Regions from separate parts of the Homo sapiens genome. Here region 2 is linked to region 1. The links come from fine-mapping of genetic effects on gene expression. A gene starts in region 1. The other region holds a variant in brackets. All regions are shown on one strand. Distances are between the middles of the regions.

Region 1 (14,687 bases):
ACATTCTGTAGCTGTGAGAGACCAGGAAGTGAGGCCTCCAGCTTCAGGTTTTACTCTCTTCTCCCTGATGGATAAGGTTAGTCAAAGTTGGGGGACCATAGTACCACATCAGGGTTGAGAACAGTTCAGGGGCCTCCCAAAACCCTGGGAGTAAGGCAGAGGCCCTGGAGAAGCTGAAATCTCCTCCCTCAGCTCTGCATTGGAGGTGAGAGCCAAGCTGGAGGGCGTGGGAAGGGTTGGTAGCTGCAACCTAACTCGCTCTGCTAACCAAGACGAAAGGAGGCCATCCGCTTGATTGCAGCCCCGAAGGGATTGCCACTGATTAGCCCCTGGGGCCTCCCCAGGGAAGACAGGACATCCCTTTCCCTGAGAGTCCTCAGCCTCAGGAGAGACCCTTCCTTGCCAGGGGCAGTTGAGCTGGGTGGCAGAAGAACACTGGGGTGAGATTCTGGAAGAAGACACATTCCTGTTGAACTCTCAGACGCACAGGGCGAGTTGAGTAACTAGTATTAAAAGCAGTATTAAACATTGCCTCTGTGACGAAACACTGCTTGCCCAGGTTCACAAAACTGGGAAGTCAGAACCCATGGCCACCTGCATCCGCCCACCGGCACTCAGCACCCTCAGCAGGATGAGGGCTGCAGGCTGGCAGTGGGGGATGGCCCAGGACTAGAGTACTGCCCCCAGAAGTGAGGGTCTCCAGAGAACGAGCATGTTCGGGAATGTTGGGCCCTGGCCACTTTGTGGATGTGGGAAAGAAAGGGAGGCCAAAGTCCACATCTTAAGAGGCCAGTTCCCGTCAAAGTGAGGAGAAGCAGACAGCCTGTGACCGCAGATGCCCTGACTGGCTTGGCCCACCAGGGCCACCCCAGCCCTGATCTAAGCACACCCACCCAGCCAGCGGGAACTGGTTCCCATAGGAATTGGAAGCCAGAACTGTTGTGTCCCTGGCTTCCTCCTGCCTTTGGGGCTCTTCGGTGGCAAGGCTGTGCTGCTGCTCTGAGACAGTCCACAATTAAAGAGGAGAGGGTTGGGGCAGGGGAGGAGAGAGCCCTGCCTATTCTCCAAGGCGGCTGGGCCCAGGGACTGGAGGTTGTCAGCAGTGGGGCAGCGAAGGGAGGTGTTGTAGGCTTGAGCCGGCAAAGGTTCGGGTCTTGTGAAAACACATGCAACACACATACAAACATGCACACATGTGCAACATACAGTTGCCATGCACAACACGTGCATACAACACATCACATATAAACAACCACCACACACACACACACACACACACACACACTCACACGTGCCACCTTTGTCTTGGCCTCTGTTAGAATTTCTCCCATAGGCAAGGGCTGAGGCTCACTAGAGAGCAGCAAAGAGCAAGGGTGCCCACTCGCCTGGACACTTAGGGAACACAGGGCTCTCTTTCCCACCATTAGCTTCATAGCAGGCAGCCCATGGCTTCCCTGTGGTCCCTAAACCCTGTGTTCCCCAGCAATCCCTTCCAGACATACCCAACCTGAAATCCTCCCATTGTTCTAACAGCTGATGTGGGTGCCATCCTTTTGGCCACCAGCAGCATCTCCCACGGGACCCCTCCCTGAGCATCCTCCACCTCACCCCTCAGGCCCATCTCCCGCCCCAGCCCATGCTTGCAGCCCACACCTCAGTCAGCCCTGGCCAGTGGAACAGACAGTGGAACAGACACTGGAGTTGGAGTCCAGTCACCTTGCACAGGTCACTTAGCCACTCTGAGTCTTCATTTCCTTTTTCCATGAAATGGGAACAATATCATCTAAGAGTATCATTAGATGAGATGACACAAAAGCATGCTGCCAAAAGCATGGCAACAACTGGTGCCCAGTAACCATCAGCTCCTTCTTCCTCCCCTGCCATGCCACCCCCTACAGGTCATCATGGAAGCCTGGGTGAAAGGTGTGAACCCCAAAGGCAACTCTACCAACCCCAGCAACTGGGACTTTGGCAGCAGTTTCTTCTTTGCAGGCACAGTCGTCACTACCATAGGTAAAGGGCTGGGGTAGAGAAGAGCTTCCCCAAGGCCCCTGTCTTAGTTTGGGCTCCCCAAAAGCAGATGCTGAGACAAGGATGTGGTTTGTCTAGGAGATTATTCAGGAAGCCCAGGGAGGGAGTGGGTAAGTGAAACAGTAGGGAGAAGGTGGCAATGAAATTTGCATTAATTAGCAGATTACTGGCTTGGGTGACTGAGCTCACTTCTCCTTGGGACCCTCTGAGAGGCTAGATAGAGCCCTTCCTCAGAACGGTCCAGCGAGGGACAAGAATGAGGGGCCATTTAGCTACCAACTCCTGCCCTCAAAGGTTGAGAGCTGGTCCCGAGTATATTAGTTCCCCAGCATTTTGAAACTTCCCATAGACCAAGCATACTCCTTTGGCCAGAAGAATCTCTCAGGTAGAGAGAGATGTGCAGAAACTGGGAGCGGGGGTTGATTTGTATACAGGAACTGTCCACCAAAGCTTCAGGTGGTATCTCATGTGTTCTGAGGGAACAGGGCACTGACAGCAGCTGCTACACCCCCTCGGCCAGAAAACTCACTCCATCCCACCCCAAGGAAACCATCAGATCCAGGTCTACCCCATCCATTCAGTTAAGTCCAATTCCACATACTTTCCTTGAACTCAGGTGACATTCCAGGCAGAGTGATGGAGTTGGGGGTGAGAGATACAAACTTGGATCAGACCCAGGCTCAGCCTGCAAGGAACTTCCAGTCCAACAAAGAGGAACATGATAAATACACAAAAAAAAGTAATAGAAAACAAAGTCGATAATTACATAGCAATGACATAAAACACTATGGGGAACCACACCCAGAAGGGAGAAGGAAATCGGCAGTCAGGAGGGCTTCATGGAGGCAGAGTCATTTGAGATGGGCCTTCAAAGATGAGCAGGAGTCCTATAAATAAAAATCATTCCAGCAGAGTTCATGGGAACAGGGGAGCTTCCCCTTCTCACCCCCAGAGGTGGTGACAGACAAACCTCAGCTAGAGTCTGGGGAAGAGGAGCAGAGGGCGTTCTAGAGTCTCCATATTTGCACACGCCCCCCTTCCCTTGCAGGATATGGGAACCTGGCACCCAGCACAGAGGCAGGTCAGGTCTTCTGTGTCTTCTATGCCCTGTTGGGCATCCCGCTTAACGTGATCTTCCTCAACCACCTGGGCACAGGGCTGCGTGCCCATCTGGCCGCCATTGAAAGATGGGAGGACCGTCCCAGGCGCTCCCAGGTATGCCCCCTAACTCCCTTACAGGCCTGCTGTGACAGATCTGTTGCAAGTGGAGTTCCCCAGAAGCCGATGCTGAGATGGAGTTTGGCATGCATGGTGTTAGGGGTAGATGCCTGTGAAAGAGGAAGGGTGAAGGCAGGGTTGGGCAGAGTGGGGAGTTGGATCTCTATGCATGCTCTACAAAGGCTTGGCCCCAAGGAGCTCTACAGCATGTGAGAGCTGTCAGAGTTGTCCCACAGTGGGCGGAACCAGCCAGGTTTTCATACCTGCCTCAATCAGGCACTGGGTGTGGCCTTCCCAGGAAGGGTATGCCCCTAGGCCAGGAGGTTCTCTGCAGCTGAACACCCTGAAGGAGCTGGCAGCTGGCCCACCGTCCTCCTTTAAGTGAGGGATCTCTGTAGCACATCTTCAAGGTCATCACAGAACTCCAACATCCTTTTGTGCAGTAGCAAACAAGCTCTGCAGGCTGCCCAGCATGCCCTCAGTGCCCACCCTTGGCCAGCCACTTGCAAGGCCAGAAATACGCAGACAGTTCAATGATACTTTTCTGTTCCAGATCTGAGTCCCCAGGGAGCCTGTTCAAGTGTGATCCCCAAGTCCAAAGGGGTCTCCAAATCGCTTCTTGACCCACTAACGCAATCCCTCTGCCGAAATCTTTCCCTGGGTGGGACAAGGTCATGCACACATAGATACAACCTCCACCTCGAGGGTCTGCAGTGCAGGAAAGGGTCCTAGCTATGGCCCAGTCCCATTCCCATGTTTACCCCAGACTCCCCCCAACCTCATACAATCCTGGAGACTTTCAAGTGGACTCAGAGGCCAACTCCCTCCCTCCTAGGTACTGCAAGTCCTGGGCCTGGCTCTGTTCCTGACCCTGGGGACGCTGGTCATTCTCATCTTCCCACCCATGGTCTTCAGCCATGTGGAGGGCTGGAGCTTCAGCGAGGGCTTCTACTTTGCTTTCATCACTCTCAGCACCATTGGCTTTGGGGACTATGTTGTTGGTGAGAACAAAACAGTCACATTATCTCAGGGTGGGGGTGCCCACTGGGATTTGGGGGATGGAGAGATGTCAGCTGAGGACAACTATTGAGGATAAGATAGCCCTTGGTCATTCAAGGGAGCCAAACCAATGATTTCTGGGACTACTGTGGATTCTAAGCAACATTCTCAGAAGTTTCTGGTCTAGGACCCATCACCACCCTGCAGAGACCTACCTCAACTGCTGTTCCTTGTTATGAGGAAGAGGGAGAGAGCATCCTGGCTGGTGAGGGTCCCTATGGAAACTGGAGGTGGCTATGCCCTGAGACCCCTGGCATTGATGCCATTCCCTTCCCTGGCAGGCACAGACCCCAGCAAGCATTATATCTCAGTGTATCGGAGCCTGGCAGCCATCTGGATCCTCCTGGGCCTGGCGTGGCTGGCGCTGATCCTCCCACTGGGCCCCCTGCTTCTGCACAGATGCTGCCAGCTCTGGCTGCTCAGTAGGGGCCTCGGCGTCAAGGATGGGGCAGCCTCTGACCCCAGTGGGCTCCCCAGGCCTCAGAAGATCCCCATCTCTGCATGAGGCCCCCGGGGGGGGCCCAGAAACCCCTTTCATCCTCCCCAGTCCCACCCTATCTGCTCTCTGGATTTCCAGCCCTGCTTTCTCCTCTCCCAACCCCCTCACTTCTCAGCCAGGGCTGGTCTCAGGAGCTCTCCCAAGAGAGAAAGGAGACAGGTATATCCAAGAAAGTAACAGAGAGGAGACGTGAGATAGGATTAAAGACATGTGTGGATGGGGAGGTGTACCCTTGTCCCAGAGCCCCTGCCACAGCCTTCCACCCAAAGGTAGTGGCCAGATCTCCACTGCCCTCCCCATGCCCCCTTCCAGGAGACCTTACACAAACAAAGGATGACTTTACTTTTGCCTCATTTGATATGTGCACAGTGCATTTGCCAAGCCCCTACTATGTGCCAGGTGCTGTGCCAGGGTCTGTGCCAGGGTCTGGGGATACAGCAGTGGAAGTGCCTGCCCTTGATGTGCCTTTAGTTGCTAGGCAAGCAAAGAGGCAGCCCCAACACAGTGCCCAAAATGCTATGATGGGAATAGCCCCAGGGTTGATGAGAGCCCATGGGAATGGCTGGCAGGGAGCATCAAAGAGAGGGGAGACCTGGGCAGAGACTTTGGAACAATCTTAGTGAAAAGAGGATCTCTGCCCTCAGGAAGCTCTCAGCCGAGGGGCAGGCGAGCTGCCTCTCAAAGCTCGCCAGCTCCCCTTGCCTAGAAGTCCAGGGCTGTCTGTGAACAAAGCTTAGGACCTCTTGGGTGTCCTACCCACTTTCCTGAACATGGCCTCCCCTGACCCTCACAGGCCACCCCCTTAACTTCATCACTCCCTCTGGGCTCCTGCCTTCTCAAGAGCCTTTCCAAACACCCCATGGGAAGCCAGAGAGCCAGCAGATCCCAGGATCCTTCCAGAAAGTGAGCTCCATGAACGTCTGGCCTCTCTCAGGAATGCATTCTCCAGGTCTGGCCTTTCCCCTGCCAGACTGCAACATCCCTGACCAGGAGAGATTTAGACCACTCCATCCCGGGGCCTGGAAATTTTGGCCTTTGCCTCTCCCATCATCCAACAGCAAGTGGGCTCCTATGTGGCTGGGTTCCTCTGCACAGGTCTGAGGCAAGGCTGTGGAGCCAAGGCGGCTCCAGGCAGGAGACCCAGGAGAGGCTCTACAGCAGCAAGAGGAGTCCAAGTCACACCCCAGGACTTCCCCATATCCAAGAAAGGACTGGGAAGCTGAGGACCCACGGACTCTTCACACAGCCTAGACGCTTCCTCCACTCCAGGTAGAGGGATTTCGGGGGCCTTCTCAGAAGCAAGGAGTGGACAAGCCTCTTGGTTAAGGCTCCTCTTACCTCCCAAGCTCATGGACAAGTGGCAATCAGCTGGGGTCCCTCTTTTGGGGTACAAAGGAAAGGACAGAGGTGTGGGAGACCCAAGGTGGTCTTGAGATTGACAGACAGCAAGTCCTTGGAGATAGCCCCCGAGTCCAAGAACTTAGGCAGGGGCCCCAAGACAATAAAGTTGGTCTCTACTATCTCCTACCTCTGAGTGCGGTTTCCAGAAGTCCCTCCCATTGTTCATTTCAGGAAATGTGAGGGGGCTCTGGGCCCCTTCCCTCAGCGCCTGCGGTCACCCAGCAGCTTCCTCCTTCTCCCTGGCCTAGGCCTAGCAGGTGGGCACCCCGCACACATTTGAGGCGGGGCCAGATGCCCACAGTTCAGAGCCTCTTTTTGTCCCGGGGATTGGATCCCAGGGCTGGGTGGGGCCAGGCTGTCCCATTCCCCAACACTCCTCCTCCCCGGCGAAACCGGGCACCAGCAGGCGTTTGCGAGAGGAGATACGAGCTGGACGCCTGGCCCTTCCCTCCCACCGGGTCCTAGTCCACCGCTCCCGGCGCCGGCTCCCCGCCTCTCCCGCTATGTACCGACCGCGAGCCCGGGCGGCTCCCGAGGGCAGGGTCCGGGGCTGCGCGGTGCCCAGCACCGTGCTCCTGCTGCTCGCCTACCTGGCTTACCTGGCGCTGGGCACCGGCGTGTTCTGGACGCTGGAGGGCCGCGCGGCGCAGGACTCCAGCCGCAGCTTCCAGCGCGACAAGTGGGAGCTGTTGCAGAACTTCACGTGTCTGGACCGCCCGGCGCTGGACTCGCTGATCCGGGTCAGGGGCGAGCGGCGTCGGCCTGGGCGCGGCGGGATGGGGTAGCGGGCCGCGGGGTGTACGGGCCGAGGGCGAGGGGGCCTATTCAGGCCCTGGTCAGGTGTTTCCTGTTCAGGGAAACGTCGGGAACGCAGACGCGGGCACAACGGGGGTGGGCGTTCCTGCGCGGGGACCAGAGGGTTGGGGGACCTCGGAGGAAAAGACCCTCGCCCTAGCGAGAGGACTGCGAGAAGCCGGGCTGAGTCCTACTTGGGGGCGAGAGGGCATGCTGGCCCGGTGAGGAGGCAGATGCCTGGGGACACATCCAAATTTGGGGGCGAGGACGACTACGGCAGGGGGCGCGCGCGTAACCGGCCCCGCCCGGCCTGACCCGGGAAAGGGCGCGTTTGAGCCTGCTTGGGGGTTGGTCGCACCCGCACCCGTGGCAAAGAGCTAAACGCCACACCTGGCCGCTTCCAGAGGGGGAACCCGGGCGCACGTTTGCGAACTGGGAGCTGGGACGGCAGGGGCGCCGGGTCTAAGGATGCGCAGGAGCGAGGGCGCGGCCGTAGGAGCCTGGGGGAAGGCGCGTTTGTCCCGGAGGGTGGGTGGATTGGGCCCGAGGCGTGCTGGTCGGGGCCACCCTCAACGCAGAGAGGGGGCTCGACGTGCGCAGACCCGGGTTCGAGAGGAGGGCGGACGCAGGGCCGCTCTCTGGCTGAACCCGCTTTACTCCGAGTCTTCGGACACAAGGACTGGGCGCGCCGCCGCCGCGCGGCTGCCCAGAAAGGCTGAAGGCAGGGTTCAGGGGAGGACTCAGAGGTAAATCTGAGCAGAGGCTCCTCAAGGGTGGGGCCTAGCAGGGCGGAGGAGGCCGGGGAGGGTTCTAGGGGTGGCGCATCTTAGGACTGAAGCGACGCCAGACTGGCAGCTGCTCGATTTGGCGGAGGCATTGATGTCCTGGGTCCTGGCTTGGTTCCCCACCCCTTCGTCCAAGAGCCCAGAGTCCAGACAGCTGCGCGCCAGCCCAGAATCCCCGTCTTGCAGTCCTGGTGGCTTATCCGTCCAGAGTCTCCAGTCCAAAGCCAATCCCCGGAAGGTGGCAGGGAACCGTGCCAGGGTGGGAAGGGACCCAGCGCGGAGCGGAAGTGGTGTTCTGAACCCTCGGACTAGGCCGATTCGGTGAGGTCAGGAGGTAGCCAGGGCCAGGCCTATCTCTACTAAGGACCTAAAGTGATTCCTCCAGCTCCCCACCTGCGGACTTCTGCAAATACAGCCCGACTGCTGGGTCCTGGTGCTGAGGCTGCCTGCCATTACCCTTGCAAAGGTGGTGAACTTCGACTACAAGCAGCCTGGGCCCAGGGAGATGGCTATGATGGTGATTATAATAACAGTAAATGCCTCTGTGCAGCACTTATCGTGTGCCAAGCACTGTTGCTGGTACTTTACCCGTATTCATTTGTCTCACCTCCCTCACAGGTGGGTACTGTTTTTATCATCCTGTTTCACCCTCACAGGTGGGTACTGTTTTTATCATCCTGTTTCAGAGGTGAAGAAACAGGCTCAGAGAGGTTACATACGAATGCATGGCTACATAGCCAGGAGCTGGAGCTGTTAACCAGCATAAATACTGCCTCAGTGTGGACCTGTGGATGTGGGTGCTTCCCAAGATTCCCAGCCAGGCTGTCATCTCTTTGGGCTTTCCCTTCAACTCCCTCCACCCCCACCTCACCCCCTTCCTCAACACTCCTGTGGCTTCAGCCAACTCCAGGAATAAGGATGTGGTATCCAGCCCAGATCTTTCTGAGCACCAGATGTGGACATGCAACTTCTGAAATTCCTCAAGGCCAAGAGCAAGTGGTCCTCCTCCTCCCAGCCCTGCTTCTCCACCTGTCCTAAATCTCGATTGTCTGCCCCATGTCCACACACCCTCACAATCCTCTGCAACATCTCCTTTACTGCCCATACTAAATAGGGCCAGAGGCCTGGGCTTCTGAATATCTCCTCTCTGTTCCTCCTGGACCACCTGTGCCAGGAGACAGGCCAGGGCCCGTCTATCACTCACTTCTGCAGGAGTCTCTCCCCTCTGGTCAACCCTTTCTATACTGCCAGCTGCCACAGAGCACACAAACCTGATCCTACTTCCCCTTTGCTCAGTGACCTTGGCTGATACCTGCGACTTCATCCCTGGCATGGCAAAGCCAAGCACAGCTTGGCCTCAATCACTTCTTACCAGTCTCCCTAATCTAGGTCCCAGGCAGTCTCACCTCCCACCTTCTGCACTGCTGTCCCATCTACCTAAACATCCTTCCACCAGAAGCAATCCTACCTGACCCTCAAAGGCCCAGCTAAAACATCCCATTCTCCATGAGGCCTCTGCTCCTACCCAAATGAGAATGAACATCCTTCTTCCCCAGAGTCCTACAACATTATATGCCTATATAATGCATATAGGCAATATAGCAACTGCTAACACCATGTGCCAGGTACTAAGTCTACACATAATACCTTATTTAACACAACAACTCTATGAAGTAGGTACTATTTGTATTACCATTATACAGGTAAGGAAACTGAGGCACAGAGAGAAGTTGAGCACCTTGCCCAGGATTGTGTAGCTGCACTTCCTCCTTAATGCCCAAAGTGACATTGACTGCATCATATTAGAGTTAATTAGGTTTATCTATGTACCACTGAGGGCTGGGGTCATGTCTCTTGTGGTCACGTCCCCTAAAAGCACCACACATCACGCCTGGCCTAGTGTTTGTTGCAGGAATGGGAGTGAGCAGGGGAGAAAATGAGTCGCTGGTTTACTAGGACTCCAACCTGACCTAGCCACTGGGTAAAGGGTGGGGAAGGAGCTGTCCCCATGGTAGCTGTCAGTAGCTGTACCTGGTGAGCCCTTGGTGAGAGGGGTAGAGCCTCCTTGCCCTGGTGGGCTGGGATCGAAGAGTAATTGTGAGGGCTGTGTGTGTAGGTTTGTTTGTGTGTGTGTGTGTGTGTGTGTGTGTGTGTGTGTGTGTGTGTGTGTGCATCTTGGGGTACAGGAAATCCATCACCCCACAGAGCCTGGTGGTCATTGCAGCCTCTTCCCCAGGATGTCGTCCAAGCATACAAAAACGGAGCCAGCCTCCTCAGCAACACCACCAGCATGGGGCGCTGGGAGCTCGTGGGCTCCTTCTTCTTTTCTGTGTCCACCATCACCACCATTGGTAAGGGCCAGATGGGGCCAGGGGGATGGGGGTGGGGGAAGGAGGCAGCTCCCTGAGAGGCAACAGGCTAGTTGCCTTTTGGAGGGATTACCTGGAGTCTCATGACTCCAAGTGCAGTTCAGCTCTGCAGCATGGACACCGCCTGGGAGCAGTCTCGGGCCTCACTACAGACCTGCTGACTCAGCCTCAGCATCTCACCCAGGTCCCCAGGGGATTCATGTGCACTGTTCGAGTTTGACAAGCACTGCTCTAGGGGACTTCTGCCCCACATGGCCTTTCAGGAAGCAGAGGTCTCCCAGTACAGCAAGAAACATGTCTCTGGGCACTACAAGGATGCCAGTCTCCTCAGCTGAGCCCACCCAACACTGAGCCCCGGGAGTGGTGGTCGGGAGAAGTGGAGGGAAAGTTAGGAAGGAAGAAGAAGTAGAAATCCAAAGAAAGAGCTTTAGACCCCCCGTTTCTCAGCCCTGGGGGAGGTGGCCATTCCTCCCATGTCCTTGTCTCCAGACCCCATTCCCACAGTCCTCTCTTCAGCTTGCAAACAGCCCCCTCCACTCCTCATCGCCATCCTCCCCACACACAGGGACACCTGGACTAACCCTCCTCTGCGGAAGAGCTGAGGTAGAGCTTGTCTCAGGAGGGTGCTGAGGGGCTGCTGTGCAAAGAAGAGCAGGCTAGATCCCTGCAGTTCTGAAACCCAGGAAATCATGCAAGTCGAGCCACCCAGATCCTTCTGCCCCAACTCCTGCATGACACAGGACTTGCCACCAGGTGGCAGGCTGGTATCACTGGTGACTTGGGCTACCGCCTCCCAGTTCCTGGCCAGCCAGGATCCTCTCTCCAGGACACCAGTATCCCAGCCTCCCCACAGGGTTGGGTAAGGCAAGAGCACCCAGAGGATTCTCCATCTAGTTTTAAATTGGCCAGAACTTCTTGAAAGCAGACCTCAGAGCTACATGGGAGCTTGGGCAATCCTTGAGACAAGCATGCTTGGGAGGCATCTCAGACTCCAGCGGCCCTGAGCCCCTGAAGGACTGGCAGGATGGGCCGATTCATCTTTACATCCCCAAGGGTCTATTACAAGGCCCAGCATACAGCAGCCACTCAATAAATACTGCCACGTTAAGGAATTCCATTAAATATGCATTCACCAGGCATGTATTGAGTTCCAGGGTAGCAGGAGATCTTAAAACACAGTCACTGTAGGCCAGGCCTCCCAGATTTGGGGGTCCTTTAGTCTGCAAACCCCACACCTCCCACACTCTTCTCAGGGCCTGTGACTTTGGCCCACCAAATTCAGAGTTTTGCTACCTCTCTTCCCAGCTCTACCACCCCTAGCTTGGATTATGCCTCTGTCCTTTCCTCTCCACTCAGTTTCAACCAGCTTGAGGGTGAGGAGGGCAAAGAGAGGAGGGCCCTGCCCCACCCCACACACACAGTACACCTGAGGAAACACCCGAGGTCTTCTTGTACTAGGCACTGTGCTGGGCACTTTGACATTTAAGATTTCAATTTGTCCCTATGGCAACCTCCAAGAATAGGTCTTATTATTTTCTTTCTTTCTTTTTTGAGACGGAGTCTCGCTGTGTCACCCAGGCTGGAGTGCAGTGGCATGATCTCAGCTCACTGAAACCTCCGCCTCCCAGGTTCAAGCGATTCTCCTACCTCAGCCTCCCAAGTAGCTGGGACTACAGGCACTTGCCAACATGCCCGGCTAATTTTTGTATTTCAGTAGAGACAGGTTTTACCATGTTGGCCAGGCTGGCCTCAAACTCCTGTCCTCAAGTGATCCACCCGCCTTGGCCTCCCAAAGTGCTGGGATTACAGGTGTGAGCCACTGTGTCCAGCCTATTTTCATGACACAGATGGGGACACGGTGGCACAGAGATGTTGCACCATCTCCCCCAGATCATACGGCTAGTGAGAAGCAGAGTTGACTAGCCATTGTGGAGTGAACAGGAGGGGAGTGAGGGTTCTGTGATGCTGACCACACCTGTATGCACTTACACATGGGAGGTATTTGGAGAGAGAAGGAGAGGGAGATGGAAGATGAGGTACATCTGGAATGCCACAAGGGAAGAAGGGATATTCTGAGAGGCTCAGCAGAGGGCAGCCTCTTCGGCAAACCCATTACCCTGGGACCAGCACCCTGCAAGGGCAGTACTTTCCAAGCCCTAACACAAATACCTCTGGGCCAGTAGGACAGGCCTGAGCCCAGAAATCACTCATCTATGAACTCCATTCCTGGCTTGCTCATTGGTTCTTTCATTCATCCATCCATTTGTTCAACAAATAAATTGAAGGCTGGGCATGGTGGCTCTTGCCTATAATCCCAGCATTTTGGGAGGCCGAGGCAGGTGGATCACATGAGGCCAGGAGTTGGAGACCAGCCGGGCCAACATGATGAAACCCCATCTCTTCTAAAAATATGAAAATTAGCCAGACGTGGTGGCGGGTGCCTGTAATCCCAGCTATTTGGGAGGCAGAAGCACGAGAATCGCTTGAGCCTGGGAGGCGGAGGTTGCAGTGAGCCGAGATTGTGCCACTGCACTTCAGCCTAGGCAATAGAGCAAGACTCTGCCTCAAAAGATAAGTACATACATACACACATACATACCTTGGTGTGTGTATGTACACATACATATGTACCTAGTGTGGGCCAGACACTGGTGCTGAGGATACAATGGTAATCAAAATTAGCAAGTCCCAGCCCTTGGGGAGCTGACATTCTAGTGTGAGGGGACACACACTAAACAGATACATGGACAATAATCAGGTAGTGGGGTGTGCTTAGAGAAAAGTAAAGCTAGTTAAAGGGGTCTCATAGTGATGGGGGCACCTATTGTAGGTGGGGTGTCCATTCAGTAACATTGAAGCTGATACAGTAACATTGAAGCAGAGACATGAGTAAAATAATGGAGCAAACTGATGATATCTGAGGAGAGAATCCTCTGCCAGCAAGTGCAAAGGCCCTGAGATGGGAATGTGACTTGTGTGTTTGGGGAGCAGTAAGGAGGTCCAGGTAGGTGGAGAGGGTTGGAAACAGGAGCTGCATTCAGAGAAAGTACAGAGAAGACCAATCACAGATAGACTTGTAGGGTTCTTGCAGGATGCCCAGAGATCCCAACAAGATGCAAAGTGGCAGTGAGGAGACATGCTGAAGTGAAAGGTGGCTTGGGTGGGGCTGTGGCTACCCAGCGTTCAACAGGTAGGTGACATCCTTTTGCTGACCTGAGGGATGGCTGAGAATAGTGGGGAGGAAAAAAACCCATTTAATGTCAGCCTGAGAACGCTGCAGGCCTCCATGGGGCTCCTCTCAGAGCTGGAATCTTAGTGTCCCCATCCCGCTGGTGAAAACTGAATGGGGAAGAAAAACCAGTACCAGATGATGGAACTTGGCAGGACCTACAGCTGGAGGAGGAGGGGTTGGTGAGGAGGCAGGCAGAGAGGTGGGTGGAAAGTAAGAGGTTTACCTCGCCCTAGATGCCTACAGAAAGGAGAACTCTCCTTTGGAAGAGGAAACCCATAAAGGCCAGAGGGGGAGGTAGATGGGGACTCAAGAGGCTTCTGAAGTCCTCAGACCAGAAGCCAGTTCACTGGAGTTCTATCATTCATTTATTCAACAAACATTTAGCACCTTGTATATACCAGATGCTTGCAAGCTCACATTCCCTTCTACAGTGTACCTCCATTCCTCATTTCATCATTACCCCCCACTGTAGGTGGATGTCAGCATCCCCATTTTACAGGAGGAAGCAGCATTCAGAAAGGTCAAGCCAAAAGAAAGAGAGAGAGAGGAAGGACAGAAGGAAGGAAGGAAGGAAGCAAGCAAGCTGGGCACGGTGGCTCACACCTGTAATCCCAGCACTTTGGGAGGCCAAGGCAGGCAGATCACAAGGTCAGGAGATTGAGACCATCCTGGCCAACATGGTGAAACCCCATCTTTACTAAAAATGCAAAATTAGCTGGGTGTGGTGGCATGTGTCTGTAATCCCAGCTACTCGGGAGGCTGAGGCAGGATAATCGCTGAAACCAGGGAGTCAGAGGTTGCAATGAGCCGAGATCGCGCCACTGCACTCCAGCCTGGCCACAGAGCAAGACTCTGTCACAAAAAAAAAAAAAAAAACAAAGAAAGAAAGATCGAGCCACTTGCCCAAGGTCCCACAGCCTGCAAGGAGCTGAGCTGGGATCCAAACCTAGGAGGTGCAGCAGACTCCAAAGCACATGCTCTGTACTTGTACATAGTTTGACCTCTCTTGGGACCCCTCAGTAAGGTGGGGGTGGATGTAAACATTGGTTTCAATATAGTACAGACGAGTTTAGGGTGTGTGGGCACAGTGACCCCATCTGGGCAAGCAAGAATGTTAGGCAGTGCTAGGAGGCAAAATGAGAGGCATTTGTTCATTTACTTACACATTCACTTTTGTATTTCCTCATTCATTCATTCACTCATTCTTTATGCATTCAACACATATGTAGTGAAGAGCACCTATTAAGGGTCAGATCCTTTGCCAGTTGCTGAGAATATGGTGATTAAGAACCAGTCCC
Region 2 (14,687 bases), 27 kb before region 1:
TTGGACTGAAGATGCAGACTCCGCGGAGCCGGCTCACCTGTCTCTAACCCTAGCCTGCCTCTCAGCCCAAGTGTCCCCAGAGTGTAAAAGGAGGGTTGTACCCAGGTGACTTCTTAGGCCTCTTCCAGCTCTGAGGTTGTCTCCAGGCAGGAAGCGAGGAAGATCTCCTTACAGCACAACTTAGAGTAAGGACCTTGTAACCACAGGCATGTGGAATACACTGGCCTCCAACCAGCCGTGTCCACGCGCCTCTTCACCTCCCAAGAGGAGCTTCTGGGTTCCACTGCACTTGGCCAGGAATCCAAGGCAAGGCGCACATGTCAGCAGCCTAGGTGAGCAGGCACAGCTGCATCTAATGAGCTGTTGGATCTGACTCCTCTCTCAGCATGAAGCTAGGTCCCAGGGGCAGGCAGTGTGGTCAGGGGTAGGCCAGCGTGTGTTCCTAGAATGCCACAGAGTCAAGCCCAGTTAGAAGGCATTGTGGCTGAGAGCACAGGTTCTGAAGCCTCAAAGAATCCTGAGTAGTTCCCGATTCTGCCACTTACCAGCTGGATAACTTTAGAATTTCTTTAATCTGTCTAAGCCTCAGTTTTCTCATGTATAAAATGGAGACGATGACATCTACCTCTTAGGTCATTGAGAGGATTAAATGGCATGATATTTGCAGAGCACTTTCACGAAGCCTGGCGTGTCTATCAATGACAGTTGTGGCCATCGTTTGTTGTTCAGCTGCTACAGCCAACAGATGCATGCTCTAACAATGAAAATTACTGTGTAGGCCGGGCACAGTGGCTCACGCCTGTAATCCCAGCACTTTGGGAGGCCAAGGTGGGTGGATCACCTGAGGTCAGGAGTTCAAGACCAGCCTGGCCAATATGGTGAAACCCCATCTCTACTAAAAATACAAAAAATTAGCCAGGTGTTGTGATGCATGCTTGTAATCCCAGCTACTTGGATGGCTGAGGCAGAAGGATTGCTCAAACCCAGGAAGCGGAGGTTGCAGTGAGCCAAGATCATGCCACTGCACTCCAGCTTGGGCAACAAGAGTGAAACTCCATCTCAAAAAAAAAGAAAAAAAGAAAATTACTGTGTAAACCATCCAAGACAGGACTCTTGGCTCTTGTCTTAGTCTGCTCAGGCTGCTATAACAAAATACTATAGACTGAGTGGCTCAAACAACAAACGTTTATTTTTCACAGTTCTGGAGGCTGGGAAGTCCAAGATCAAGGCACTGGCAGATTCGATGTCTGGTGAGGACCCCCTTCCCGGTTCATAGACAGCTGTCTTCTCGACGCATCCTCACATGGTGGAAGGGGCAAGGGAGCTCTCCAATGTCTCTTTTATAAGGACTCTAATCCCATTCATGAGAGTTCTACCTTCATGACTTAATCACCACCCAAAGGCCCCACCTCTACTACCATTACATTGGAGATTAGGTTCAACACATGACTTTTCAGGGACACAAACCTCCAGTCCGTAGCACAGCAGATTTAGTTCCTGCTGAGGGCTTCCTTCCTCGCTTGCTGGCACCTCCTTCTTATTGTGTGCTCACATAGGAGAGAAAGAGAGAGAGAGAGAGAGAGAGAGAGAGAGGGAGAGGGAGGGAGAGGGAGAGGGAGGGGGGGAGGGAGAGGGGGGGGAGAGAGAGAGAGAGAGAGAGAGAGAGAGAGAGAGAGCACTGTAGTTTCTCATCCTCCTCTTATACCTATAAGGACACTAATCCCAGTGCAGGGGCCCTACCCTCAGGACCTCATCTAAATCTATTCACCTCCCAAAGGCCCCACTGCCCAATGCCATCACACTGGGAATTAGGGTGTCCACATAGGGATTTTGAGAGGACACATTCAGTCCATAACAGCTCCTAGATATAAACCCTGAATTTCCTTCTATAAATTTGCCCCCATTCCTTTTGCTTTTGTTTGTTTGTGTTTTGCAGTGATGTGAATGCCAGGAAAATCCTGCCCTCGCCTTGCCCCAGTCCACACAGCCAGAAACAGAGCAGCACCAGCACCCCACTGGAAGACAGGTCTGTGGTCTTCTCCTGTTATGCCTGTGACAGCCCCTGCAGTGGGCGGAGTGGGCCTCCATCTCCAGTCTACTCCCCGAAAAAGCCCCTCGTCCAGTAGCCACACAGACAGAACCCAGGTCTGGCCTCTGCCCTGGTCCCCTGGGAATTCCCTGGAATCTCTCACACAGGCCAACTCAAAGCGGGGAGGTTTTCTCCCACAGTCACCAGGGCCCTGTGTTGGGCAGAGTTGTTTCATATCTTCTTGTGAATAGACGTACCTGGGGGCCAGAAAGGGAAAGAGCCAGCCCAGGGCAGCCCCACCACAGAGCAGAGCAGGGAGCTGACAAGCCTGGCCTGAAGACCCAGCAGCATTTGCTTCCAGGCTTACCAGAGTTGATCAGCACCATGGGCATTTGTATCCTCCGGCTAGAATGGCTGCTCAGCCTCTTTCACCAGCACAGCCTCTGCCCTGCCTGCCTGGACTCTGCTTTAGTGCTTCCGGCTGGCCTGCAGCGGGAAAGCCAACACCCAAACTACCTGCGGGAATGGCCAGCCCCTTGTTACATACCGTCCTTACTGCCTTCTAAGGAAGTGGCTACCACCTCCTGCTGTGCAGAGGCACAGGGGTGAGGATGGACGGAAAGTTGGCAAGGCCAGGCAAGTGTACTGCTCTGAGTTTGCTGAAGGGGAATGCTATATGGAGAAGCTGGATGGAAAAGGGGATGGGGGAGGGCACACACAGCCCTCCCTTTCTAAGGAGATTCCCACACAACACTTCTACTTACAAATCTCATTGGCCAGCACCTGGTCACCCGGCCACACATCGCAGCAAAGGAGTCTGGGAAAGGTAGTTTTTTTAGTTGTGGCAACTTAGCTAAATATGATTCTGTTTTTAAGGAGAGACAGGAGAACAGTAATCTCTGCCTTGAGGTCAACTAGCTAAGCCACGTGGGGAATGAGGGTGCTCTGAGGACACAGCACTGAATGATATGACATCTAAGCTGGGCACAGAAGTTGATGGGCCCCAGGTTAAGGGGTGCTGGTTTGGGTAAATCAGGGATGGGAGGACAAGAGTGGTGGTGGTAAGAGGATAGAGAAGGCAGCGAGAGAAAGCACAGCCGCCATGTGACGGGTGGTGGGGAGGGCAGTCCAGGGAGAGGAAGCATCAGAGCAAAGGCCCTGAGGCTGGAAGTGGCTTGGTAAATGCAAGTCACTGAAAGAAAAGGGGGCAGCTGGAGCCCCTGACCCGGGGTCATATCATACACAGCCTGGTAGGTCATGGGACAGAGTTTAAGTTTTATTCCATGAGTGGTGAAAAGCCACTAAAGGGTCTGTATTAGTCTGTTTTCACACTTCTGATAAAGACATACCTGAGACTGGGTAATTTATAAAGAAAAAGAGATTTAATGGACTCACAGTTCATGTCACTGGGGAGGCCTCACAATCATGGTGAAAGGCACGTCTTACATGGTGGCAGCCAAGACAGAATGAAAGCCAAGTGAGAGGGGAAACCTCGTATGAAAACATCAGATCTCATGAGACTTATTCACTACCACGAGAACAGTATGGAGGAAACCGTCCCCATGATTCAGTTATCTCCCACCTGGTCCCTCCCACAACACGTGGAAATTATGGGAGCTACAGTTCAAGATGAGATTTGGGTGAGGACACAGCCAAACCATATCAGGGTCTATGGCAGGGAATGACTTGACCCAATTTGCATGACAAGAGGCTTAGTGTGGCTGCCACACAGAGAAGGTAGGAGGGAGTGAGAAGCAGGCCAGCCGTGTCATGTAGCTTTCTGAGTGAGATCAGTCACCTAAAATGGAAAAGCATTTTGGAAATATAAGTGGTGAGTCCAGTTGTAAAGTGTAGTAAAATGTGACACGTGGTTGCCTCCAGCATCCCCAAGAGGCCAGTGTCGTCCATCCCTCTCACCGGAGACAGCCAGACGGACTCGGACATCATCGCCTTCATCAAGGCCAGACAGAGCATTCTGCAGAAGCAATGTAAGTGCACCTCCCTCGGTGGCTCCTCCTGGGCAGCAGGTCACCAACACTTGTGGGGAGCACACAGTGAGGTGGGAGGGGAGTAGGGAGTTTCCTGCATATTCCTGAAGCCACAGGACTGGCCTGCCTGTCAGTCACATGTGCCCAGCCTCTGATTCCTTCTCGAGAAAGCCTCAAGGGGCAGCATCAGAAACACCAAGACAGGCCCAAGTGGGTGGGCGGCCCAGGTGCTCCTGTCCCTCTTGGCAGAGCTTGCTCTCTGTCTCTTCCAGATCTTCAGCTCCTTTGTTCTCTGTTCCCAAAGTCAGCTGTCTCCTCTGCTCAGGCTTCTACAAACAGGAAGGGGCTGAGTGATGTTTTGGTAACTCGTTGAACCCCTGGCTTAAAGTCTCACTCCCCTATCAGAGTGTGGTTCTTGCCAAAGAGCTGTGAGTGTAAACACTGCTTGAAGGCCCAGGCCCGAGGACACCATAACAATCACAGAGGAAGTAAGAGTGGCGTGTCAGACAACAGGAAGAGAAGAAGGCTCTTCTTGGTCTGCATCACTGCCCCCTCCACCCCCAGCCCCGTCCTCTTGGCAGCTGCCCATCTCCCATCTGCTGTGGCTGGGCCTTTTCTCTTTCTGCCTTCCATCCCCAACACACCCACAGGGCAAGCCCCAGGGCCCCTTACCCCAGGCCTGCATTTTGTCTTAGCCTCCTCCCCATAACCCAAAGGCTACTAGGCAGGCTTAACATTGCCTTCACATTGCCAGAAAGGCGCCCCCACCGTGATGGTATGGGCTGGCAGATTCGATGTATAATGACTGATGCCTGCCCTGTGGCGCCTGCACTCAGCTTCTCCACCAGCCGTGTGCAGTTTGGGCAGGAAGAGGTTTGTGCATGGATGGAGCGCCGCAACTGAGAGCCGGCCTTGGTCCTGTACTCGCCTTGCTTGGCCGCCAGCCTGCTTATTTACTATCCTCTCTTCACCACCAGGACCAGCAGCCTCAGCAACACTGTCAGGTCCTTTCTTAAGCCTGAGACAGCCCCACCTCTGCTGTGATCTTGTCTCATTCTCAGTTTCCTTGTCTAAAAATAAAAAAAAATAAAAAAAAATAAAAAAAAATAAAAAACTGGATTCAGTGATCTCCAAGTCCCCATCTATGCCCCAAATACTCTGATGATAGGTATCAGGCACTGAACAGCAATGAACAGCCAATCAGTCAGCAAACACTGTATATGTTGGGTGCCTTCTTATGCCAGGCACTACTACTAGTGCTGGTGCTACAGCAGAGAACAAGACAGAACCCAGCACGTGAGAAACTGACATTCTAGGGGGAGGAAGGAGACAGACAATGAACACGTCGACAAATACGTAAGATTGTTTGAGGGGATAATAAGTGCTATGAAATAGCTAAACTATGTAATGTTGTAGACAGTAACTGGGAAGACTGCTTTTAGCTGGGTAGGTTGGGGAGGCCTTGCTGGAGAAGATAACTTTAAACTGACAGCTGCATCATGAGAATGGAGCAGCTACGCCGCGTTCTGGGAATGCACAGTCCTAGCAGACAGAGCGGAAAGCGAGAAGCCTGAAGGGGAAGCTTTGCTTGGCCACAGGGTGGGAAGGAAGCTAGAGTGGCTGGAGGGCAGGGAGCAAGAGCACAAGGGCCAAGTCACACCAGCCTTATGCACAGGGGAAAGAGATTTGGATTTTATTCTGGATAGAGTGGAAGCCCACTGAATAATTTTAACCATGGAGTGATATGATGTGATTGATGCTTTAAAAAGCTCACTTTGTCTGTCACATGTAGTGTAGATTGTAGGGGCCAAGGGTAGACCAGTTACCAGGCTACCATGAAAGTGCCAGCAAGGGATGATTGTGGCTTGGACTCACCAGTAGACCAAATATGAGATGCAAGAGAAAGAGGAGAGTCAGGGCACCTCCTGGGCTTTTGATCTGAGCAGCGAAGAGAATGGCAGTGCCATTTACTGAAATGAGAAAGGCAGGGAGGCATGACCATCAGAGGCAAGGAGCTGGAGGGATGGAGAGTTCTGGCTGCCCTTTTTGAAGTTTCAGATGACATTTGATGTCCAAGAGGAGGTGTCGAGTAGACAGGTGAGCATCAGTGGAGCTCAGAGAGAAAGTCTAAGCTAGAAAAAGAAATATGCAAGTCATCATGTCTGGTTGGTGTCTGAAGCCACAGGACTGAGTACAATGTCCTCTGAAGACCAGAGATGGAGGTATTCAAATTGCTGAGAACAGCCCCCTGGGGTTCTCCAACAGTTGCGGAGAGAGAGGAAGCAGAGATGCTGAGAAGGCACTGCCAGGGTGCGAAAAGGAACAGCAGATAAGTGGGTATGGCCTCAGGCACAAGCTGGAGAAGCACAAGCTGGAGAAGCACAAGCTCCAAGGGGAGACGGGCCAGTAGAGTGTGGCAGGATGGAATGTGGACCACTGGCCATTTTGCATGTCAGGGTGATCATGGACAAGCACCATTTAGCCAGGGGACTGGGAGTGGCTGGGGAGAGGGTGGAAGGGAAAGAGGCTGAGGCAGTGAGCAGATACAACCCCTCCAGGGGGTTGAGCAGTGACAGGAGCAGAGAACTGGGCTGGAGCTAAAGGGAAGCAGGAGCCCAGAGGGATGCTTTAAGACATGCTCACGTGCTGAAACATGCATAGAGAGGGAAACTGATGCTGTGGTGGGAGAGGGGAGCAGAGCTGCAGGAAAAACTTCCTTGAGAAAGTAGAGGGGACAGTGTGTGGGGCACAAGTGGAGGAAGGCTTGGATACGCAGGATATCCTTTGAGCTGAGATATCCCTTCCCCTGTAACAAATCCATAGAAACCAACCATCATTCCTCCCCTCAAGAAGCCTACAAGCAAGCAATATCTTTAAGTTACATTCACTAAGCTTTTGTACATATAAGAGATGTGATCATCTAACTCTCTCCAAACAGAAGAGGCGGAAGTCCAGGTCCCTGTCAGAGTGGTGTCCTCCTGCTAACACTGTCCCCAGGCAGTGCAGAGAGCTGGATTGAAGGGCAGGCACTTTTATTAAAATATGTATGGCAAACTACCATTTATAAATGTTTTCATTTTTATTGTTTCATTTGATGCTCTTAACGCTCCTGTAAGGCATGCAGGGCCAAGATTATGATCCCCTGTGGACAGGTGAGGAAAGGAAACTGAGGCACACAGAGGTTGTATCACTTGCCCAAGGTTACACAGCTGATAAATGGCAGAGCCAGCATAACCCAGGTTTTCTGCTCTCTCCCCACTGGGCCACACTGTCTTGAAAAGCTGCAACTACCAAGATATGCCCACTCTGCTGTCAGGAGTTCTCTCGGCCTCAGGAACAGGAACCAGCATTGACGAGGGGAGTGACCGCAGCCTCTACCCACCCTGCAGCTGGGGAGCTTTGCTCTCCAAATAAACAGCAGCCTGGAAGTAATTCATCAAAGCAAACAAAACT[T/C]CCACAGCTCAATTTTTATTCCGAAAGGAAGAATATTCATTCTGGCTTTTCAGTGACCACGGGGCCACAAAGGAAGCCAAAGACAGGTTGACACGGGGTCCCTCTGCCACCAGGTCCCAAAGGGCCAGCAGGCGTGACCTCTCAGACATACAGCAGATGGTTCTGGTCCCACCATGTGGCACTTAATATGCAGCCCACTTATCAGGGCACCCAGGCAAACACACAGGCCGGGGCCCAGGCACCTTCTCAGCCAAAGCAAACACCTCCCTCTCCCTGCCTGGGCTCTCGAATCTTAATTTAGCTCACAGCGCTGCCTTGGTTACTTCAGGAGTGCTCATTAAGGGGAATTTGTGACTGTCAGCTCAGGAGCAGGAGCCCAGAGAGGGCAATTTAACATAAGCCTCGCCAGCTCTTAGGCTTCACCAAGGGCCAGGATGAATCTATTTGATTTAGGATTCATGGAACAGCATGGAATGTTTAAATCCCTGCCAGGGGCAGGCGTGGACAGGTATATAACACCCGTAAGGGGCATCAGTCATCCGTGGAGTCAACTCTGCTGTTTCCAACTGCCAAGGACAGTTTTTATGTCTGAGGAAATGAGGTTAACCCCTTTCTAGAGGGCCTTTTTGTTTTTAATCTTGCTTAATCCCTGAGTTTGGAAGTATTCCCATCTGGAAAGGAACCATGGTGCGACCCCCATAACCACAAGTCTGTCTTCTCCAAGAGGTGTTAGGAAGAGGTCCTGCCTCTCCCAGCCCTCCAGCCCCACTCAGAGAAACCCTCCAGCTCTCTTCTGTGTTCAGAAACCCTCCCAGGGAAAGAGAAAGAGCCCCGAGCTGGGAGGGAAAAGGCGGAAATTCCAAGGCCATCTCTGCTCTGCGTGACACTGGGCAGGTCACCTCCCCAAGCCTCCCTCTCACTGTCTGTCATGTACAGATTCCACCCTTGCCCAGGCTCTGATCCTTTCCCAGATAATCTCCATTAAAGTCCCTTATCAACTCCCAAGCACCAAGGAATTATTAACAGGGAAGTGGCCTCTGTGGTGAGAGCTGGCCCAACACCATGAGGTGTGATTTTGCTTTTTCTTAATGGTACATCTGTAGTGTGCCCTCCTTTCTGGGAGCCCACGGTAATCAAAACCCCAATACAGACAGAGCTTCATCACTTAACTGGGGCCCATAAAGTGAATGAGTTTGAAATGGTGCCTTTTGTGTTGAGGTCTGTGCATGTAAGGAGCTATGTCTTGGGGCAGAGCGTGCTCTCCCCCCTATTCTGTAGCATTTCTTCCCAGGCCCCACCCCACCCACCCCCTGTCATTACTGCATGCAAGTGTGTGAGGGGCTCAGAGACCATCCTGGGTGGGAGATGGCTCAGACTCCATGCTCCCTACCACCGGCAGCGTTCACAATCCTGGCCCAGGCTGCATTTCAACAGTGCAGCAGAAACATCAGAGCCCAGATCTCATCAGCAGCCACGTGCCCACGGGCCCCCAGCTCTTGCCCTGCCAGTCCTTGTACTAGAGAGACAAAAGCAGTGAGTTTCAGCCATGGCCATGCCTCAGAATCACCTGGACCCACCCCAGTGATCCTGACTGAATGGTTCTGGGCTGTGGTCTGGGCACCAGGATGTCTAGAGATTCTCCAGAGATTTCCGTTGTGTAGCAGAGCTGGGAACCACAAGTCCAGAGTGACAGGAACACATGACCATCATAGGCTCGGTGTACTTGTCTTCTTACTTCCCGTTCTAGAATTCAATTCAGACAGATCAGAATGTCTTAAAAATAAGGACCATATTTGTTTAATTAAACAGCAAGGCCTGCCAGAGGTCTTGCACACAGAATTAGAACTGAAAGACCAAGGGCTCACAGCCGTGAATTATTTCCAATCTCTTCCTCCGCACTAGCTGGCCATTCAATGTATCACCAAGAATTACCCTTTCTTCCACAGCAATATCAAGCCAACCAAGCTAACACTCGTCACCCAGTACCAGGTTCCTGTGGCCGAACCTGGAGGGCTGCAGCTGCCTGCTCACCTGTTCCCTGAGCAGCCTCACCCCTCAGGCTCTCTGTCCACTGAAATTTTTTTAAACATTGTATTTATTACTTCATCCAAGAATCTCAGAAATTCTCTCTTGCTCTTACTAAATTAGCCAAACTTTAAGCAAAATAACTGCATATCACTCTTACCAGTTCTCACATTTTAATGTGCTAATGAATCGACAGGTTTTGTCAAACTGTAGATTCTGATCCAGTAAGTCCAGGGTGGACCATGTCTTAGACTCTGCCTTTCTTAACAAGCTCCCTGGAAATGCCAGCACTGCTGGTCCATGGACCACATTTTGTGAAGCAAGAAGCCACCTTGCTTTTTCCAGGTATCTCATCTGCTCCAGCAAAGAGAAATGTTAGGCCCAGAGAACTGACATGACTTGCCCAAAGTCACACCGTGGGTTGGGGACTGTCCTGGCTAGAACGCAAGGGCCCTGGTTCTCAATCCAGAGAACCCTCTCCATGCCCAGCCATGGGAGATGACAGGATAGGGGCCACATGGTCAGGAGGAGCCATCCTGGAATATAATTAATATCTGGAGGAAAAAGCAAGGAGAGAATCTGAGGATTAGGTAGGAGCATCAATGAAAACCATGGGGTTGTCCAGGTGTGGTAGCTCACACCTGTAATCCCAGCACTTTGGGAGGCTGAGGTGAAGGATCACTTAAGCTCAGGAATTTGAGACCAGCCTGGACAACATGGTGAAACCCCATCTCTAGTAAAAATACAAAAATTAGCCAGACGTGGTGGTGGGTGCCTGTAATTCCAGATACTTGGGAGGCTGAGGCAGGAGAATCACTTGAACCCCGGAGGCAGAGGTTGCAGTGAGCCGAGATTGTGCCACTGCACTCCAGCCTGGGTAACAGAGCAAGACTCCGTCCAGAAAGAAAAGAAAGAAAAAGAAAGAAGGAAGGAAGGAAGGAAGAGGGGAAGGGAGGGGAGGCTGGAGGGAGGGAGGGAAAGAAAAGAAAGAAAAAGAAAGAAAGAAAGAAAGAAAGAAAGAAAGAAAGAAAGAAAGAAAGAAAGAAAGAAAGAAAGAAGGAAGGAAAGAAAGAAAAGAAAGAGAAAGGAAGGAAGGAAGGAGGAAAGAAAGAAAGAAAGAGAAGAAAGAAGAAAGAAAGGAAAGAAGGAAAGAAAGGAAAGAGAAAGAAAGAAAGAAAGAAAAAGGAAGGAAGGAAAAGAAAGGAAGGAAGGGAGGGAGGGAGGGAAGAAAGGAAGGAAAGAAGGGGAGAGAAAGAGAGAAAGAATGAAAGAGAAGAAAGAGAAAGAAAAAGAAAGAAAGAAGAGAAAGGGAAGAAAGGGAAGAAAGGGAAGGAAGGGAAGGAAGGACAGAAGAAAGGAAGGAAGGAAAAGACAAGACTCCAGCCTCGGTGACAGAGCGAGACTCCATCAAAAAAAAGAAAGAAAGAAAAGGAAAGAAAACGGTGGGGTAGGAAAACAGGCGTCAGTCTCAGCCTAGGGAGATGGAGCTTCTGCAAAGGGCAAAGGGGGCCTCTTCCTTCAGAGCTTGGGGTATAAATGCAGCTCCTGGGAGGCAAGACACAGATGCAGTGCCCAAGACCCAGGGGGAGTGGCTGGTGGCCTCCCCTCCCCCCGATTCAATCCTGGGAAAAGTCAGTGTCTGCATGCACAGCCTAACCAAAAGCATCCTGTCTCCCTTTCAGGTTTGGGAAGCAATTGAATTTCCAGGAAATATCCATCCATGAATTATGCCAGCAAGAATGAAGCACAGATGAAGGCAGCGCCCCTCACTTGCTCTGGCTTCAGAAGTGAACTATGGGCTGCTGGGAGCAACTAGTGACTTTGATTCCCATGGAGGGGACTGTGTTTCTTTAAGGATGCTGACCTGGAGGCCACCGAGAGGCTGGGGCTGGGGCTGACCACAACATCCTTCCTGTGGTTGCTGGAGCTGCTGGCAGGGCCAGGCAAGGCCAGAGTGCTAGGGGCAGGGTGAAGGCTTCAGCTCACTGTTGTAGTGACGTTTTGTGTAGATCTTTATAAGCTTTTGAGAATGTGAAATAGCACCATCAAAATATAATGTCAGAGGATGCTCACACCAGTGGAATGTGGGGGGAATATTTTTATTTTTAACGATTTGCCAGCTCTCTCCCTTGGCCCGTGCTCTGGTTTGGAAGCCCAGAAATGGCCATGACAGGTCCAGGCAGGATGTCCCAGCCACAGGCAAGGCAGTGGAATGCAGGGCATCCTGAAGGCCAATCCTGATCTCCCAGACCACATCTTTCACCATCAGCCTCTTGGCCAGGATGACCTGGAGGCAGTGCCTGAACAGCTGTGTCTCCAGGGAGCCATCTGCCCTGCAGGGTCTAAGGACATCATAGCACCCAGAGAACAGTGGGCAGCTCCCAGGGGCTCTGCTGAGAGCTTGAGAGAGGGCAGTGTGGGTACCTTGGGCCTCACAACCTTCACCCAGCCACTTGGGAGGATTTGGGCTGACACTCCCCACTTCCACAGGGAAAAACATAGCTGCCTGGGGGTCTTGTCTCCATGGGCCCTCTCCATGACAGATCCAAGGGAAGGTGGGCAGCCCTCAAGGAGGTTCTTGAAGAACTGCCCCCTGGGCCAGGGGGTTCCAACCCAGCTGCAGCCAGGGAGGGGCAGCGGAGGGTGAGCAGGAGTGGCACCTGGAAATGAAGCTAACTGGATAAAAGTGCTGGTCCACTGCTCCTGGTGTCTCTGTCCTATAAATACAGGACCTGATGACCCTGGAGGGGAGCAGAGTGGTAATATAGTATAATTGGCTTGATTTTCTTTTTCGTTTTTTAGGACTGGGTAACAGGATCATGCAGGAGAAGATTAAACCATTACATTTCTAAGCTAGGCAGGCCCATCGAGCTCCTCTAATCCACACCCCTATTTTATATAATTAGAAGGCCAGAGTGAAGGGGAGATTCAGCTTGCTGTTCTATGCCACTGACAAATGTCCCCTCTTCAGGGGGCTTCCCCTGACCACTCCATCTCGAGTCACCCCCTAGTTATCCCCTATCCCATTACCATTTTTTCTGCATCACTATCTGACATGTTATCCTTCCGAACTTGCCTATTTTTGAAATACCTGCAACCCCCCATAATACTAAGAGCTCCAATGCAACAGGGACCTGTTTGTCTTGCTCATTGCTGTGTCCCAAGCACAGAGTCGCTGTTCAGTAAACGGTCCTTCAGTTCATGAGTAGACGAGCCAGAACCCAGATGTGTTTCTCAGGCTGGTGTCACTCTGACTTCCCCCAGGCTCTGACTGAATCCCATCGGGACAGGGGCCAGCATCTCTGGTCCACTCCTGGCCCTCACAGTTCAATGGAACATAGTAAGCCCTCTGTAAAGTCTGTAGAACCAGAGGAAGACCAAATTCTGATTCTAGAAGCCTCCCCAAGAGTCCATGGAACACACATGTAACTGCACACACACACACACATACACACACACACTCTCAAGAGCCCTGAAGATGGCATGGCATTTGCCCCAGTCCCCTATGTAGCAGCAGCAGTATTCTTGGCATGCCTTAGTGCCCTCAGCCCTCTAGAGCTGGGTAGAGTCTACTAACTTTTATTTTCTTTTATTTTTACTTTCTTTTATTTATTTTTTGAGATGGGGGGGGTCTCTGTCAGCCAGGCTGGGGTGCAGTGGTGCGACCATACCTCACTAGTCAGCCTCCAACTCCTGGGCTCAAGCCATACTCAGCCTCCAACTCCTGGGCTCAAGCGATCCTCTCACCTCAGCCTCCAAAGTAGCTGGAACTACAGGCATGCACCACCACACCTAGCTCGTTTTAAATTTTTTGTAGAGACAGGGTCTCACTGTGTGGCTCAGGATGGTCTCAAATTCCTGGCCTTAAGCGATGCTCCCGCCTTGGCCTCCCAAAGTGCTGGGATTGCAGGCATGAGCCACATACCCTGCCAGAGTCTTTCAACATTAGATCTCCCACTGAGACATCATCTCCTGGATCCAAAGGCCTTACTGACAGAGATGTGTGGCATGGCCCCATGCGGGGTGTGAACCAGCCTCCTGGGGCAATCACTAAGACAGGAAAGGAAATGAAGACAGAAAAACACACAACATGGGATCTGGGGCCACTGGTGTCCAGAGCATATGCAAAGTGTGTGCAGCAACTGGCCAAGGGGCCTTTTGCTCCGAACATCCCCTAATGGAAGCCCAGCCTTTGATATGGACACATGCTTGACAGCAGTGCACCTTCCCAGAGTTCACTGGCCTCTGCAAATGGGAGAAATTGATGCAATGTTTTGAAAAGACTTTCCAGCAATCCACCTGGGATCAGTGGAGCCACGGATGACAAGAAGTATCTGAGTTCACTCTAGGCCAAAATGTGGGATTTTCAAAAACATTTTCTGGAAAGCAGCCTAGCCAGTGACTCCAGCCCAGTCCCTGCTAGAATTCAACTGGCTCTACCAATCCCTTGACAAGAAGTAGGGTGGACGGAGGTTGGAGGAGGGAAGTTAAAATGTAGCTTGCCCAGATCTTGCTAAAAAGGAGTTTTAGAAAGCAGATAGAGAAATTGTGGTATACTGAATACATCATTTTAATTCTTCACCACCAGTATAGAATTACACATCCAAAGCTTTGTCATGGCCCACTTTGACTAATGTGGTGTTGGCAAACCTGATCCAGGCAGAGGCTTGAATTGTGCTCTCATGGTTGAGCTTGCCTCTTGCTCCAGTGATCTCTCTTGGGATGAACATGCCATGGGTAGCTGCTGCCCCTTCAGCCTGGAACATCCAGAGAGCAGACCTGAGCCCAGTCTACAGCCTGGAGCAGAGCCTCCCAGGCAAGCCCAGCCCAGATCAGCTGAACTATGGCTCACCCAAAGACCTATTGGCATGAGAATATATGCTGCTTGTCATAAACCACTGAGGTTTAGAGTGGTTTGTTATATAGCATTAATTGTAGCAATAGCAGACTGGCACAGAAATTGGAACCCAGAGACAGTATATGACTGGATCTAGGATTTCTCAGTGCAGAGTTCATTGTCTCTCCATGCAGCCTGTGGAAAGGCACTGAGAGCATCCTGTATATGGAAAAGCAGGACCACCACCTACAGCCATGATGAAGCAACAAGGACCTGATTTACCCTCCTGCTTTAAATGACTAAAAATGAGACAAAATCCTCTATACAAACCAATGGTTTTCAGCCATTGGATAAC

Evidence for each region. PIP is the estimated chance that this variant, and not a neighbour inherited with it, causes the effect. A credible set is the group of variants that fine-mapping cannot tell apart.
Region 2: its variant is the best candidate, but not a certain one, in a credible set for the expression of KCNK17 in transverse colon (GTEx, PIP 0.53).

The regions. Positions count from the first base shown.
Region 1 is chr6:39,306,345-39,321,031 of GRCh38, reverse strand. It overlaps KCNK17 (potassium two pore domain channel subfamily K member 17), which reads left to right and starts at 6,613. Exons shown (of 5, transcript NM_031460.4): 1 at 6,613-6,948; 2 at 10,025-10,139. The coding sequence starts at 6,712. It overlaps KCNK16 (potassium two pore domain channel subfamily K member 16), which reads left to right. Exons shown (of 5, transcript NM_001135106.2): 2 at 1,899-2,013; 3 at 3,080-3,246; 4 at 4,085-4,250; 5 at 4,590-4,861. The coding sequence ends at 4,813. LOC105375047 (a long non-coding RNA gene) reads right to left here and starts at 7,076. Exons shown (of 3, transcript XR_926774.3): 1 at 6,808-7,076.
Region 2 is chr6:39,333,039-39,347,725 of GRCh38, reverse strand. KIF6 (kinesin family member 6) reads left to right here. Exons shown (of 23, transcript NM_145027.6): 20 at 1,200-1,250; 21 at 1,937-2,026; 22 at 3,911-4,017; 23 at 11,178-14,687. The coding sequence ends at 11,194. LOC105375047 (a long non-coding RNA gene) reads right to left here. Exons shown (of 3, transcript XR_926774.3): 2 at 9,048-9,213; 3 at 5,025-5,087. Among named protein-coding and RNA genes, the nearest start is that of KCNK16, 18 kb to the right of the region's middle. RefSeq lists enhancers at 2,386-2,887, 3,562-4,399, 4,382-4,431, 7,706-8,207, 11,484-11,563. The variant T/C (reference allele first, on the strand shown) is at 7,471.